2 separate regions of the Homo sapiens genome follow, and region 2 is linked to region 1. Evidence: fine-mapped expression QTL. A gene starts in region 1. The other region holds a variant in brackets. All regions are shown on one strand. Distances are from middle to middle.

The links.
Region 2: its variant is fine-mapped to the expression of SCUBE1-AS2 in aorta (GTEx, PIP above 0.99).

What each region holds. Positions count from the first base shown.
Region 1 is chr22:43,208,332-43,216,651 of GRCh38, reverse strand. It overlaps SCUBE1-AS2 (SCUBE1 antisense RNA 2), which reads right to left and starts at 3,978. Exons shown (of 2, transcript NR_134632.1): 1 at 3,955-3,978; 2 at 2,991-3,497. It overlaps SCUBE1 (signal peptide, CUB domain and EGF like domain containing 1), which reads left to right. Exons shown (of 22, transcript NM_173050.5): 16 at 2,401-2,562; 17 at 4,060-4,227; 18 at 5,569-5,730; 19 at 6,412-6,609.
Region 2 is chr22:43,294,352-43,302,671 of GRCh38, reverse strand. The region is part of intron 3 of SCUBE1 (signal peptide, CUB domain and EGF like domain containing 1); the gene reads left to right. Among named protein-coding and RNA genes, the nearest start is that of SCUBE1-AS1, 23 kb to the right of the region's middle. RefSeq lists enhancers at 1,234-1,733, 1,734-2,235. The variant A/G (reference allele first, on the strand shown) is at 4,945.

The sequences.
Region 1 (8,320 bases):
TGAGACAGAGTCTCGCTCTGTAGCCAGGCTGCAGTGCAATGGTGTAATCTCAGCTCACCGCAACTCTGCCTCCCAGGTTCAACCTATTCTACTGCCTCAGCCTCCCAAGTAGCTAGGACTACAGGTGCGCGCCACCGTGTCCGGCTAATTTTTGTATTTTTAGTAGAGACAGGGTTTCACTATGTTGGCCAGGCTGGTCTCAAACTCCTGACCTCATGATCTGCCCACCTCGGCCTCCCAAAGTGCTGGGATTATGGGTGTGAGCCACTGCGCCCAGCCTCTTCTACTTTCAATAACTTATTTTGGGCCGGGCATGGTAGCTCACGCCTGTAATCCCAGCACTTTGGGAGGCCGAGACAGGTGGATCACCTGAGGTCAGGAGTTTGAGACCAGCCTGGCCAACATGGTGAAACCCCGTCTCTACTAAAAATACAAAAATTAGCTGGGTGTGGTGGCGAGCGCCTGCAATCCTAGCTACTGGGGAGGCTGAGACAGGAGAGTCACTTGAACCTGGGAGGCAGAGGTTGCAGTGAGCTGAGATCACACCACTGCACTCCAGCCTGGGTGACAGAGCGAGACTCCATCCCAAAATAAAAATAAATAACTTATTTTGAAATTATTTCAAAGTTTCAGAAACATTGTCAAGCAGAACAAAAAACTTCCATATTTTCTTCATCCAAATTCCCCAATTGTGCACATTTGACCACATCTGCCCCGTCTCCCACACGTGTGCATGTGTGTGAGTGTGCATGCATGTGTGAGTGTGTAGTCTTCACCATCCAACCCACACACCCACCCCATTCAGCTCCAGCAATCCTTCCAACAATGTCCCTTTTGTTTTTCTGGTCCCAGCTCCCATCCAGAAAGACATGTCACCCTCCACTGTGTCTTCAGGCTCCTTCAGTCTGGAGCCGCTTCTCCCCTTTCCCTGCCTCTCCTGCCCTTGTCCCAAACTCACCTCCTCTAGGCTAACGCTCAGAGCTCCCTCTGGTTTTTCCTGGGGACCTGACTCAGGGCCCAGGGTCCAGCAGGAACCTCAGCTTCGAGGCCTAATCCTGGGTGCCCCATCAGCAGGCACAGGATACCCCCAGCCCGCCACTGGCTTCACTTTCACTCGCCATTTTCTCTCTGTGATTGATGAGTGTTTTCTGAGTTTGGACCAATATTCTCCTCCTCATCAAACTTCTGCACAGCTCCCGCCATGTCAGCCACCTCTACCATTTGTTCCATGTTCCACGCTCACTAGTCACATTCTCCTGTAGGAAAGTGGGTGGCCATGGCCGTTTACCTCTGGGTCTGTATCCCTATAGACTCAGATTCCCCTTACTCATTGCGTGGTGATCCATTCCTGATGTTATTTAGTTCGGCGCTCACTGTGTCCCCAGGGTAGCCAGGGATGCCCCACCAAGCTGGCTCTTGGGTCTGTCTGACCTGCCACACACATGCTGCGAGCCTCCCCTTCAGATCCAACTGACACTCTCCATCCCCTGGCATCAGCCAAATCCCCAAGGACCCCTGGTTCCTTTGAGAGGAGGATGATGGGTAGAAACCAAAATCTGGGATATTCATTGCTCCTGGAGTACCACTGCCTCTAGGCCCTCTCATCGGACAGAACTGGAAAGCATAGATGTGTATACACGTGCACACACAGGCATGGGAATCTATGGGTGGGGGGGTTCTAAAACCATGAATTCATGCCAGTGCCTCCCGTTCCACACCTCAGGGTCTTTTCTAACCTTCACTCCCCATTTCCGCATTTGTAAGCATCTTCTCCAGCACTGAGAAACTCGGCTCCCTTTCTCCTGAATTTACTGATTTACTCAGTTTCCTTACTTACTCATCAGTCGACGTATTTGTTCAGTGTAGCCAACCAGACTGCGCTGTCTTCAGCCCATCATCTCCTCGCTACGCCCCTCCCACCTCGCCCGCCAGGCCCTCCTGCCCTTGCCTATTTGAGCCCCAGTCCCTCCCCACTGCCCCTAACTCCTCCACTCAGGAAGGACAGGGGAGCTTCGGGGTGAAATGACTGTAGCATATCCAAGTGGCGACATCCAGGAGGCAGTTTGCTAAAGCTGGAGGGCAGGGTGTGGAGCAGACAGAGGACAGACGTATGGGGGAGGTGGGGACCACAGGCTTCTATAAGCGGGTGGAGATGGAGGGGTCCACAGAGGACTCTGAGGTGCAGCAGCCAGAGGGGCCAGGCTTCATGGCCCTCACAGATGGCTGCCTCCTGGGTCTTGCCCCAGGCTCTTCTGGGATAGGTCAGGGGCCCCTCTGTGTCCTTGGGGCCCCAGGGGACAAGGACTGTGTCTATCAGGAGAGCCTGGGCTTGAGCACACAGGAGACACCCCTGGCCTCCCCACCTCTGCCTCCAGCAGCCTCTCCGCTTTGCCTCTGCAGTTGCCTGTGGGCCTGGCACCCACTTCGGTGGTGAGCTCGGCCAGTGTGTGTCATGTATGCCAGGAACATACCAGGACATGGAAGGCCAGCTCAGTTGCACACCGTGCCCCAGCAGCGACGGGCTTGGTCTGCCTGGTGCCCGCAACGTGTCGGAATGTGGAGGCAAGTGCGGGCCTAGAAGGAGAGGTGGGGGTGGGGGGTGGGCGGGGGCTCCTCCTGTCTCTGATGAGGCCCTCCTGTCGAAGGCCCAGGTGCCTGGTGTGGCCAGAGAGTGTGGTATTTTCTAAAGTTCCTTGTCGTTTCCAAAACCCTTCACGATGTCTGTGCAGTCATCACTTACAAAGTGCGTGACAGATCCCAAAGCGTCAGCAGTCCCGGCCTGCACTACAGTGCTGAGCGCTGCACTGCACTCGGTGTGCTCTCAGAATTGCATTGTGCCCTTTGGAAAGGACTTCACAGTGTGCAACTTACGGTTTCTAAGGGAGGTACATAAGTGCCTTATGGTGGACTAGACAGCTTACATTTTACGGAACATTCCATTACAACTGGAACACTTTGCAGAGAGTATCTTATACTTGAGCAAGAACTTTGCTCCACACAAAGAACTTTATTATGTGCCCCACAGACGGTTTAGAAAGCCCTTTTTCAATTTACCAAATGCAGTTAGGTTTGCAAAGAGCTTTTGCATTTACCTCCCTCTCCCCACTTAACTCCATCTGTGAAGCTAGCTCAGTCTCCCCATGAGCCTTTCTTCCCAGGCCACTGTGAGTTTCACCCAAGAGAATCCGCGGGGAAGGTTCTCAGCACCCTGAGAAGCACAGTGCCTGTGAGGGTGGGGGAGTGGGGTCCCAGGATACTGGAGACCTCCAGCTTTCTCCCGGTGATGGAAGGGCTCAGAGCCCAGCCCTGAGTCCGTCCAGGCTGCCGGCTGCTCTCTGGCCCACGCCCACTCCAGGAGTGTGGTCTCCACCCCTGGGGGAGTGGCCACTGGTAGGAGATTCCGTGTTTGGGTAGAAGCTGAGAATCCCAGGGTCTGGGCTGAGAGGGTGCTAAACCCGCCTCTCACTCAATGCCAGAATACTCTCTGCATCCTGAGTCTGCTGGAACGCAAGAACATTCTTTACTCGGAGCTGAAATTGGCTTTCCTGTGGTCCCCTCCCTTTGTCCCAGGGGTGCCCTTGAGTACCTCAGAAACCCTCCCCAGACCCGCCTCCCTCTGCTCTGGCCTGGCCCTGCTGGTAGACCAGGCAGCGTCACCCTGAAGCTGAGCAGGTGCTCCTTCTGCGGAGACCCCGGTGCAGCCTACCCCCCGGGGACAGCCCCTCTGAGACACGTGACCTGCCCCTCCACCTGTGGGTCCCCTTCCCAGCTCAGCAGCAAGGCCTCTTGCTCTTCAACCCCCAGGCCTTCTTGCTGGTGGGAGAAGGAGAGCCAGGCTTGACCAAGGCCGCACATGAACCGCTGGCATCATCCGGACCAGGGCCCAGCTTCCTGCACCCCGGCTGCTGCGTTTTCCCCACCCCGTCCCCACCCCAGGCCTCGGGTGCCCAGTACCTTTTCCAGGGCCGGGCAAGGGCCAAGAGCGGGGCCTGAGACCACCCACAGCCTCGGCCCTGCGGTGCCCTCCTGCCCGCCTGAGCCATGACCTCTGACTTTCAGGCCAGTGTTCTCCAGGCTTCTTCTCGGCCGATGGCTTCAAGCCCTGCCAGGCCTGCCCCGTGGGCACGTACCAGCCTGAGCCCGGGCGCACCGGCTGCTTCCCCTGTGGAGGGGGTTTGCTCACCAAACACGAAGGCACCACCTCCTTCCAGGACTGCGAGGCTAAAGGTGAGCATGCCCTCCCCACCACGCCCGCCCACCCCGAGAGGCAGGGCTGCACTGCTCCGAGAGGCTTCCCCGAACCCCTCTCATCTCCTCCATGTGGCGAACCTCCCAGCTCAGAGGAGGAGCCTGGAGCTGTCAGGCGTGGGCGTGGGTGACCCACTGTGCCCCGCATTAGGACAGGGACACCTTATAGCTGAGAGCTTTCTGAGCTCCAGGGGGAACAGCAGCTCCTCGGAGCACTGGGGAGGGCTCTGGGGACAGGAGGCCTTGAGCAGCATCTAGAAGGGAGGTTGGGAGGGTGAGGAGGGGGCAGGAGTGTGGGGGCAGGAGTGTGGGGGCAGGAGCGGGATCAGGGCATCACCTCAACTGCTGTCTGTTCAGGGCATCTGGTCCCACCCAGGTCTACATCCCGTCTTCCCTCACTCACCAACTCCCCCAAATCCTCCCCATTCTCAGCTGCTGACCCTGCTTCCCCACCGTGCTCCCTCTCAGTGTCTGTCTGTCTGTCCAGGTGGCCTGGCTCTCAGCCCCCTGGAGCCAGCCACATCACCAGATACTCCCCTGCACATACAAACTGTTCTGAATTTGCCCATTTAAAAAAAGAAGCCAGGTGCGGTGGCACACACCTATAATCCCAGCACTTTGGGAGGCCAAAGGGGGTGGATCACCTGAGGTCAGAAGTTTGAGGCCAGCCCGGCTAGCATGGCAAAACCCTGTCTCTACTTAAAAAAAATACAAAAATAATTAGCCGGGTGTGGTGATGTGCACCTGTAATCCCAGCTACTCGGGAGACTGGGAGGGGAGGATCGCTTGAACCCAGGAGGTGGAGGTTGCAGTGAGCCGAGATGGCACCATTGCACTCCAGCCTGGGTGACGGAGCGAGCTCCATCTCAAAAAAAAAAAAAAAGAATTGCCCATCTCTAGCCCCCCGCCCCGGCACCCCTCAGACTCCGGCCGCCTGTCTCTCCTGCCCCAGCAACCTTGTAGAAAGAGGGTTTGGCCTAGCTGGCTCCACTTCCCCTCCTCCCTGTCTCCCCCGCACGCCTCCGGCCACATCATCGCCCCCGCTCTCCCTGAAAATGGCTCCCATCAAGGTGGCCTGTGTGGTCCCTGTTTTGCTGGAGCCAACATCACATCAATCTGCCATGTGACCCCCACGCCAAGGGCTCTTCCTGGCCATGGCGGAGTGAGGGTGGTGGGAGGTCATGGGGCGGTGGGGAGGAGCCTTGAACTCTGTGCCAAAACAGACCTCGAGGGCATGAGAGGTCCTGGGGACAGCACCCCAGTGCTGCCCTTTCCCTGCACCCCTCCACACCCACCACACTGCCTTGTGTCCCCCGGCAGTGCACTGCTCCCCCGGCCACCACTACAACACCACCACCCACCGCTGCATCCGCTGCCCCGTCGGCACCTACCAGCCCGAGTTTGGCCAGAACCACTGCATCACCTGTCCGGGCAACACCAGCACAGACTTCGATGGCTCCACCAACGTCACACACTGCAAAAGTGGGTGCTGCTGCTCTGCCGTGGGAAGCTGGGAACACGGGAGGGGCTGGGCAGGTTGTGGGGGCGGGAGGAGACCTGATCTCACACGAGCTCCACGAGGACACTGGACTCCTCCCGCTCCGTCCCGTCTGCTCTCGGGTGCATTGCATCCATCTGGAGGCCTGTGGCACCAAAGGGGCAGCCCTGGCTTGGCCCACTCTACGGAGCCCACAGTGGTGGCCATCGTTCATCAGTTCCCACTGCTCACCCAACACAGCCCAAGCCTCTGCCCTGGGCCAGGCCCTGCTCTAGTTTCTGGGTCTGCTGGGGGGGCTGACAGCCTACAGGGGCACTGACAGGGCCTCTAGAGAGAGCAGGGCTCCAGGCCCTCTCAGTGCCCCTGACAAGGCCCAGCCACAGAGAAATAGGGTGGGCCTGCAGGCATGGCAGCCCAGTAAGAAGAAGCCCCCAGGCTGGGCCTCAGGGAACCACAGGCCTGAACAGGGGACCTGCCCTCCTGCTCTGGGGGCAGCCCAGGCAGGGTCCCCAAGGAGGATGGGCTCAGGGTCCGAGGGCTAGTGTGGGGGGGGACAAGAGCACCTTCCAGCCCTGCCCTAGGCCTCCCAGGTGGTTAGAGGCCTGGCCGGCCAGGGCCCCTGCCCAGCAGAGCCTGATGAGGCCCTCGGGCCACTGTGCCCACAGACCAGCACTGCGGCGGCGAGCTTGGTGACTACACCGGCTACATCGAGTCCCCCAACTACCCTGGCGACTACCCAGCCAACGCTGAATGCGTCTGGCACATCGCGCCTCCCCCAAAGCGCAGGATCCTCATCGTGGTCCCTGAGATCTTCCTGCCCATCGAGGATGAGTGCGGCGATGTTCTGGTCATGAGGAAGAGTGGTATGTTGGGGGCCGAGGGGACCAGAGGCAGCCTCAGCTGCGTGTGCACCCCCGTCTCGCTGCGGTTCTGCCAGGCGGGATCGCTGCCTTCACAGGGCAGAGAGGAGGGCCCTGGGGCTCAGAGGACCAGCCCCTCAGAGTCCACCTGGGAGGCAGGGTTGAAACCCACTTGGGTCTAAGAGCTGGCTTTACAGAGTTCTGTGGAAAGATCTGGAGAGCTTAGGGTATTCCGAGAGTGGATGCTGGGACATGGTCAGGCCTGGTCTCAACTCCGGCCACGAGCCGGGCCCTCATCCCAGTGGCGGGACCAGCCGCAGGGCCCCTTGCCACCACTTTCTGCCGCACCGCTCAGGGCGAGACCTCAGGCTCCAGCTCCATGGGTCTCCTCCCGCCCGCTGAGGTTTGGGGGACCACACGGCCGTCCCATGCACCACACAAGATAACAGCTCAGAGAGCCCTCCCCACCCCTCTGTGAGCCCTGGACTCCTGGCTCATCCGCCCCCGTCAGGGCTCCTCTTGAGACTTTAGGGAGTGAAGGATGGAATGGCATGAGAGAGGACTGGACTCAGCAGTGGGTGTGACCGCTGTGTGCCCAGCTGGCCACAGCAGCAGGAATGCCTGGGAGGCCCCTGAGCCACCCGAGCACCAGCCAAATACCTGCAGCGCACCTGTCCAGGGCACCTCGCTGCTGTCGGGCTGTGGGTGCCCATGTGAGCGAGCTCCATGTCTGAGTGTTAGGGAAGGAAGAGCAGGAACCCAGACACCCACAGACGCTGGCCAGAGAACATCTCTGGGTACCCAGTGACCACAGAGACCGGCCAGATGAGGGGGTGGGGAGGGGCCTGAGGTCTGCGCCAGGGCTGCTCCTCCAGAGTTGCGTTATCCTGGGCAGGAGTTGCTCAGCATAGCTAATGAGTAGACGGATGTCAGCAAGGCTGACGCAGCTGAGCAGCCAAAAGCCGCAGTGTGCGGATGGGCAAGGGACCGGCCTGGGACCACATTCCCCACCCGTTCCCCTCACCCGTTCCCCTGCCCCCAGCATCCCCTCCTTCTGTCCCCCACCACAAGCCTGAGCTGAAGTGAAGCCCAGCCTGTCCCCCATGAAGGGCTCCTCGGGAAGGCCCCCAGGGAGCCGTGAGGCCTTGCCAAGGAGCCCTTAAGCGGGGAGAGGCTGGGCAGGGCTGGGGTGCTCCCACTGTCACCGTGTCTGAGAAAAGGATGGTTTGCAGAGTTTGGGAAGATTCACCTGCCGGTCACATGCTGTACCCACGCTGCCGCACTCGGCTCCTGATTTCCTCCTCGGGAGATCAGGGCTCAGTGGGCCTTGCTGGTGTATTTGCTCTCGGGGAGAAGGGACTTCCCAAGTCTGTGCCTCTGGTCCCAGCAGTCAGTGCCAGTTCATCTCCCACGTCCTCCCCCAGCTTCCACTCCCACCCTGGCCTTGCACCAAGTGCAGGCCTGAGCCCTGTCACCGAGGAGCAGTTAGCTGGAGGGAGATGGAGACCCACTGACAGAGGGGCCTGTGATAAGGGGTTCACCAGAGCAGAGCAAGATCTTGGGAGGGGATGGGGGGAGAGTCAGGGAGGCTTCCTGGAAGAGGGGACAGAGATGGGTCTCAGAAGGACAAGTAAGAACCCGGGTTGAGGGTAGGGAAGGGCCTCAGAGGCAGAGGGAGCAAGCACAAAGACTAAGCCGTTGTGTTTGGGGGACC
Region 2 (8,320 bases), 86 kb before region 1:
AGGGGATGAAAGCACCCCGTTCCCAGCCTGGCTCTGTCACTCACTTGCTGGGGACTGTGGGCAGGCTGCACACTGCTTGGAGCTCCCATTTACAAAACAGCTACTGCCCTGGGCTGAGGTTAACTGAGATAACTGTAACAAAGAGTGCCTGACTCTGAGCAGGGGCCCCAGCCGCCCCCTGCCCTGCCTGTGATCTAGAAGTTCAAGGAGGAACTGGCCTTGCCATAGGTGGTCTAGCAAAGTGAGTGAAATGTAGTTCGGTAGGGGATCCCACTGTGTCTCCAGACCGCTTCCCTCTCCACTCACTTCCTGAAACTCTGCCCAGCTCAAGCAGCTTCTTTAGTGGGAGACTTTGGTCCTCATGTCAGTAAAGGTGCCGACAAAGCAGGAGGAGACGCTGAGCTGCACCCCTCTTCTGAGGCCCCCCAACATGGATCCCGTCATGCACTGAGCACCAAAGCCACAGGCTGGCAATGACTGTGAGGGTACCTGGTTCCCCATCGCGATCTCCGCACAAGCTCCCCACTCTCGGGCAAGGCTAAGGCGGCAGATGAGCACAGCTCTTCTCTGAGAGCCTTCTCTGGCATCTCCTGATGTCAGCCCCTGACCCACCCACACACCCACGGCCCACTGGTAGCCAGCACATGCTCCTGTCACTCATCCAGAGCTGCTTCCTTGAGCAGGTCCTGGGGCTGCAGGGCCTCATGGCAGCCCCTCTGCAGCCACACTTTGCAGCATACGGCAGCGAAGGCCATGCAGCTCATCCTTGGTGGGACGGCCTTTAGCCAGGGCCTGTGGATGTCCAGGCCAGAAGCGCCGTTCCCCACCCACACTTTTGGAAGTGCTCAGTCCGTTATCCAGTCCGCAGACATACATCATGTGCCCCGTGCACTGTTCAAAACCCTGGGATACTGTGATGCTCAAAACAGACAGGGTCCCTGTTCTCAGGGGCTCTGTGTTGCCTGGGGGTAGACAGAAACAGTCACAAGGAAGATTCCAGGTGGGTGGGGGCGTGCTCTGAAGGAAGCAGGGGAGGGACACGTTGCAGAATGGCCTGTCTGCCACTTTAGCTTAGTGGTCAGAGAGAGCATCTCTGGGAAAGCGGCACGTGAGCTGAGGTCTGAAGGAGAAGGAGGAGGCAGCCGTGCCAAGACAAGCAAAGAACATTCCAGGCAGAGGAGCAAATGCCAAGGCCTGGAGATGGGAACAGGACAGCTGGGGTCAAGGGAGAGCAGGACACAGCAGCCTGGCTGGAGGCGGGTGAGCGAGGAGGAGCCCGGGGGGACGTGGGCAGAGCAGTTCCTGTGGGCTTGGTGGCCGGGAAAGGGAGTTCATGTTTATGACACCTTTGTGGGCTTTCAGGCAGGGGGATGGCATGAGGTCCATGAGGGATGGAGGATGGACAGAGGCAGGATGGAGGCAGGGAGTTCGAGAATCCAGGCCAGAGACGAGGGCGACTGGCCCAGCCGTGGCAGCCCTGGAGGGGAGCGAATGTGTTGTACTCGTGGTGAATTTCACAGGCAGAATTGAAAGGACTGGACCTGCTAAGGGCTTCAATGTGGGGAGAAAGCAGCATCAAAAATAACTACCAGGTGTTTTGCCTGAAGCAACTGTGGGTTGTGTGACCATTTGCTGAGCTGGGGAAGGCTGAGGGCAGACTGAGCTTTGTCTCATTCTATTCTGCTTTTGTGGGAGGGGGACTTGGGAGTTCAGCACGCGGCCCATGAAGTCTGTCACGCCCGCAGGATGTCCACGTGCAGGCACCAGGTCAGCTCTTGATGTCTAAGTTGGAGGGTGGTGGAGCTGGCAGGCCTGGGGGTTTGGGGGCAACCTTGGCAGATAGGTAGCCAAGGGACAGTGCGAAATCTCCCAGGAACAAAATGTAGATGGGGTGGGGGCGAGGGAAGAGCCTGAGAGAAGCCCAGGCCCCACTGACCTGCACTGAACTCCTGAGTACCTAGTGCTGCCTGAGGCTGCTTGAAAGGAGGTGGTGTCCACAGAATAGGAAAAAGTATTTGCCAATCATATATCTGGTAAGGGTCTAGTATCCAGGATGTATAAAGAACTCTTACAACTCAAGACATCCCAGTTTAAAAATAGGCAAAGGACCTGAATAGACATATCTCCAAAGAGATGGAGACGCCACGCCCACCTGGAGTCTTTGTGACTGTTTCTGTCTCCCCACAGACAGCATAGAGCCCGTGAGAACAGGGACCGTGTCTGTCTTGAGCGTCGCTGTATCCCAGGGCCATACAAATGGCCACTAAGCATGTGAAAAGCTGTTCAACATCATTAGTCATTAGAAAAATGAAAATCAAAACCATAATGAGAAACCACGCCACACCCACTAGGATGGCTGTTAAAAAAAAAAAAAAGCCCAGAAAGGAACAAGTGTTGGCGAGGATATGGAGAAATTAGAAACCCCATACTTTGCTGGTTGGAAATGTAAAACGGTGTCGCCCGTGGTAAACAGTCATTTCCTCAAAAAGGGCACACATGGAGTTACCAGATGATGTGACAGTGCCACCCCCAGGTATCCACCCAGGAGAGCTGAAGGCGTATACCCCCACGAAAACTTACACACAGTGTTCAGCAGCACCGTTCATAACAGCCACAAAGCCAGCACAACCCGGATGTCCATCAGCTCACGAAGAGATACATGAAATGTGGTCTGTCCATGCAATAGAATACTGTTCAGCCGTAAAAGGGAATGAAGTGCTGAGTCACGCTACGACATGGATGCAGCTTGAAAACATGCTAAGTGAAGGAAGCCAGACACACAAAGACAAATATCGCATGACTCTCTTTACATGAAATGTCCAGAATGGGCAAACCATAGATGGAAAGTAGACATGTGGTTTCCAGGGGCGAAGGGGTAGGAATTGGGACTAACCGAAAACGGGCACAGGTCCTCTTTCTGGCATGATGGAAATATTCTGGAATTAGTAGTGATGGTCGTGCAACACGGTGAATATACTAAAAACCACTAAGATGTCGGCTTAAAGATTGTGAATTGTGTGCTCCATGAGTTCTATCTCAACCAGAAACGGGATTGGAGAAATAGCAGAGGTCACACGAACATAGCATCAAAAGTCCCACCCACATCCTCCAAGCAGACCATGTGCACAGCTCTGTCCACTTCTGGGCCAATTGTGAGTGCCCCAGTAAGCTGGGATCCCCAGAGAAGGGCGACCTGGGTGGTGAGTGTGCCAGAAGCTTATTCAGGAGGGAACAGTGTCAGGAGCCGAGCGGCTTCACTTGGAGACCAGAAGGCTGAGGCGGGTCTGAGTGCTCCCCTCTGATGTGGTTTGTTGTTGCTTTTGCATTTTGGAAGGGACTTTGCTGTCACTGGAGTACGTTCGTACCCGTGATTCCCTGAGGCCATGAGCAGCGGCTTCGTGCTGCACCTGCTCACACTCGGTGGTGGTCTGTGTGTGCCAGGCGCTGTGCAGAGTACATTACCTCCATCACCTCCTTTGACTCCCAAACACCTCAGGGACTTTTATCCCTGTTTTATAGAGAAGGAAACCAAGGCCCAAAATGGTGAAATGACCTGCTCAAGGTCACAGAGCAAGTGACCAGCAAAGACTCACTGAATCTTTTTTCTTTTTTTTTTTTTTGAGACGGAGTCTCGCTGTGTCGCCCCAGGCCAGAGTGCAGTGGTGCGGTCTGGCTCACTGCAAGCTCCGCCTCCCGGGTTCACACCATGCTCCTGCCTCAGCCTCCCAAGCAGCTGGGACTACAGGCACCCGCCACCATGCCCGGCTAATTTTTTGTATTTTTAGTAGAGACAGGGTTTCACCGTGTTAGCCAGGATGGTCTTGATCTCCTGACCTTGTGATCCGCCCGCCTCAGCCTCCCAAAGTGCTGGGATTACAGGCGTGAGCCACCAAGCCCAGTCGACTCACTGAATCTTGTACTCCATCTGGTATGACTTGTAGAGCAACAGCCAGGTCCCATGGGCAGTGGTCACAGGGCAGCATCACGCAGACCCCTTTGAGGACTGGCCAGCGGTCTGCACTGGGCGGTAGACTCCCGTCCTTCCCTAGAGATGCACAGCAGGGGGCGGCAGGGCAGCGGCTGGGCTGGAAGGCAGGACTCAGGTTGCGGAGAGCAGAGTGAGCAGACCCCAGCGGCCAGCAGGCTTCACCACCTCTGCCTTCCCTGGGCTGGCTTGCTGGGTTTGGACGTGAGCAGTGAGCTTGCTGGTCTGGAAAGCTGACCTTACCATTCATGCGCCTCATCTCCCACCCTGAGCTTGGACTCAGGCCCAGGCCAAGAGGTTGGCTCTGTGTCTTCTGCACACGGCCAACCTGCTGGGGAATCAGGAGCCCCAGGGAAGACCTCAGCTGATGCCCAGACCAGGAAGCAGACAGGTCCTGGGAGACCCCAGGCATACCTCCTGCCGCCTGTGCCAGCAGCTCTTGACAGCTCGGAGAGTGTTCTGGATCTGGCAGAACCCAGGCCCCAAAGCTCTAAGACCCGTGTGTATTTTACCCAAAATCTAATCCATCTGGTTCTCATTTATTTACACTTAACTCATCAAATGCAATTTTGCAAGAGCCGCTAGATAGCCAAGAGGCTTTTCTGCCTAAGCCGCCCTTCTGAAAGGAGCCGGCAGGCGGTGGGGGCCTCAGCCCCCTGGGACCAGGTGGGAGCTCTCCGTGCTGGAGGTGGAGTTCGCTTCCTAAGATGGGCTGGGCACCTCTGCCTCTGTTTCTAGACCTTCCGTGGGAGCTGGGACACCGGAGCCAGTGGAGGGCCTGACACACAGTAGGCTCTTGACAGCCATGAAAACATGGGTGGGTCCAAGCAGAACACGGAGTCTCTGTTTCAAATCGGGAAATATTTGCGGGAAACACAAAGCAGCCAGAGCTGGATCCAGAAGTAATTTTTAGTTGTTATAAATAACTGTGAACCTGGACTCTTGGTCCAAAGTAGAAC[A/G]AACAGCCAGCTATTAATAAAAACAAACATCAGCATCTTGGGCCAAGAAGCACACCTCCCGGGGAAACTGGTCCTGCCTGCAGAGGCCTTTCGGAAGCGGGTCAACCTATGGCCTGCTGATGTCAGCTCTGGAAATTCTTCTTGCTGGAAAACAACCATGTCAATCACAGCACAGGGGTCCCCTCCCACACATCACCCTTCAGTGGCTGGCAGCAGGTGGAGGTGGCCTGCGCCTGTGAGGACCGAGTGGAGATGGGCAAGAGTCACAGCTGAGGGCCGTCCGCCGCCACCCCGGCCTCCAGAGCTGTGCTCATGCTGGGTACTGCACAGTGAGGAGGTGGGACCTGACCCCAGAGACCCTGTGGGACCAAGGTGCCATGTCCTGTTCCAGCCAGACTCATCACAGCAGCCACTGCCCATGGAGAAGGGATTGGGAGGGAGAGGCTGGAGGCTGAGACCCAGGAGAAGTGTGCAGCCTACCCCAAAGAGGAAGCTGAGGTCCAAGCCAGGGCTGTCTCATGGGAGCCAGGGAGATGGACGGGCAAGGTGGCGTGGAAAAAGTCAGCAGCCTTGGTCAGACCCTTGGGAGAGGGGCAGAAGAAAGGGGCTTCGAGAACAACAGGGTCCTCAGGCCTGGTGGCTGGGTGGGACGAGGGCCAGACCCTGACCAGTGAGGCCCCTCTTTTGTGCTCCAAATGCTCAGCCTTTCTTGACTCCTGTCCTTCCCTTCTCCCACCTCTGACCTCCCCCAGCTCTGCGGGCTGAAGGAATGGGAGTTCACAGCTCACGGGGAGCAGCCTTCAAGGACCTTCAGGCTCCCTGTCTTTTGTCCCATACCTCACTGGAGTGGTCTTTTTCCGAGGGGGTCTCCCAGCCCCACCTGCTGAAGGCCCCTGTGGCACGGCCCACCAAGGTTCCACCTTCTCTTCCTCCCAGCTCCCTTGCCTGCCATTTCAGCCTTGGCCCGGAAGAGGGAAGGGCTCCGGCGGTTCGATGGCACAATCACAGATACAGTTGTACATCAAAAGAGGCTGTGGACCAGTGCCTTCCAGCCTCAACCACGCCGGTCCAGACAGCTGTGAAAGGCTCCTCCCAGGACCGGGCATGGAGGGCCCGCTCTCCACTCTACCTCCCCCGTCTCTCTCACCAGTTGAAAGGATTTCCTGAAAGGAGCCTCCTAGAGTCTGCCCCAGAGCCCAGGGGACCTCCTGTCTCTTTGTAGCTAAGTCCCTGTGCTGTGCTGAGGAGCTCCGTGCCTTCTGGGAACATTTAGCTGTGGTCATAAATAAAGATGAAGGACCATGAGCTGCCAGCAGGATTCAGAGGCGGGACACTCCCCCTACCCCTCCTAGAGCCGCCCAGGGATTCTGGACCCCGGATTGGAAACAGGCCCACTCAGGGGCCTCACTACACGCAGGCTCAGCCCTGGCCCAAGGCCTCAGTGGTTTGGGACACTCTGCGTGTCAGGCTGCACAAATGTTTTCTGCAGGGACTGTCCCCCTGCTAGTTGGACTGATGTGGGGACCCGAACAGAGCTGGGGTTTTTGAGCGCTGTGTGGGGTCGCCAGGGTAGGGTGCAGGCCACAGAGCAGCCTCGCTCACTCTACATGCCCACGGCCTGGCTCTGCTGTTCCTCTTAGCCCAGCATCCAGGACCCTGTCAGCCACCTTTCCCTGGTTGCTTCCAGAACTCTCCTCCTGTTAGAGAGGCTGCAGGCCCTTCCCTGTCTGGGCCCTGCCCTGCCCCTTCCATGAGCCTTTGCTTTCAGAACACCTCCGCCTCCTCCAGGATCCCCAGGCTCAGGTCACACCTCTCTGCTGTCCTCAAAGCAGCTTGTACTTCGCCTCTTCCAGGAAGCCTCCCATCTCTGTGCTCTGGCCCAGTGCCCTGGAGCTTGGTGTCCCTGGCAGCTCAGGGGTAGTGTGGCACAGAGTAGGTGCTTGGTGTTCACGGAGTGAGTGAATGAACAGAGGCGTTTCAGGTGGATTCAGAAGGCAAGAAAAACTTCGGTCTGGACAAGGAGGGGAGGCAGTTCCAGGAGGAGGGTGGCATGCACACTCGGGCAGAGGTGAATGGGTGGGCTGTGTTCAGAGAGCAGCCGCAGCGGATTCCTAGAGCATGGCTGAAGAAGTGGGCAGGCTATGAGAGCCCACTCACAGCTGAAGCCCCCCTCGTGCCCAGTGGGAATAAGGACAGCACTCTGCCCCCTGGGACTGGTCCCTTGGCGGTAGTGAGCTCCCTGGCACTGGTGTGTGCAAGCACAAACTGTGCCATCCCATTTACCCTCCTGTCACTTGAGTAATCACTCTTGGCCTGACCCGCTGCTAGGAGCAAGGATATAAAGGAGACTCAGATCTGTCCTCACCCCAGGGCGGGGACAGGATAGGCAAGCCCTCTGGTCCAGGGCAGAGGAAGGAAGTAGTGAAGGAAGGCAGGCCTGGCCTGGAAGCCGGGGTGGAGTGAATTATGCTGGGCACCAGAAAGACTACACGGAGGAGGAGGCTGAGCACTGGGCTTTGGAGAGGTGGGCATGGAGGGGCCAGGGAGGTTTGTAAGCATCAGCACCTGGGAACCTTCGTCACTACCGCCATCGGACTTGAAGGGTCGTCATTCACAGCTGAATCCTGCGGGAGGAGAGGGAGGGCTTTGGATTCATGGGGCTTCCAGTTCTCTTTCTGCCTCTTTTAGAGCTTTGAGGAAATCTCTCTCCATCTCCAGGCCCCAGTTTTCTCACCTGAGAATCAGGGATAATAAGAATAATGCCCCCGGTGTGGAGCTGTTGTGTGGATTTATTAAGATAATGCCTGAGCTGGGGCCTCGCTGGCAGCAATTGCCGTTATTTATGGTAGTGAGGCTGGCAACCCCGCCCAGCCTCAACGCTCACCTCTGTGTGAGGGCTTGGGGGTGGGCTGGGATTCTCACACGGGGCCAGCCACACAGGACCCATCCATGCACTGACAGTCAGTTCCACGGGGCAGAGAAGGAGGAGGGCTGCACACACCACAGGCATTCCAGGAGGACTTCCTGGAGGACGCAGTCTGCAATCCCTCAAGCTCTGGGAGCACTTCCCAGGGATAAGGCCTGGGCATCGCCCACAGGCTACAGGGCAAGACAGGGGCAGAACTCAGGGAGCCTGACTCCCAGGTGTGGGTTCCCCTTTTCCATGAGGACACCTCTCATAATAGAGTGTGCCAAATGCTGGGGGACCATGGGGCGGTGTGTGCTGGGCTCACAGCACCTCTTGGAGAGGGCCAAAGTACTGTTTCTCATAGTGCCCTGCCAGGCCTGGCCAGGGCCTCCAAGTGAGCCCAGTCTGTCCTGGGCTCATGGGCGGCATCTCACAGACCCAGCTGCTGCAGTTGGATGCTCTTCAGAC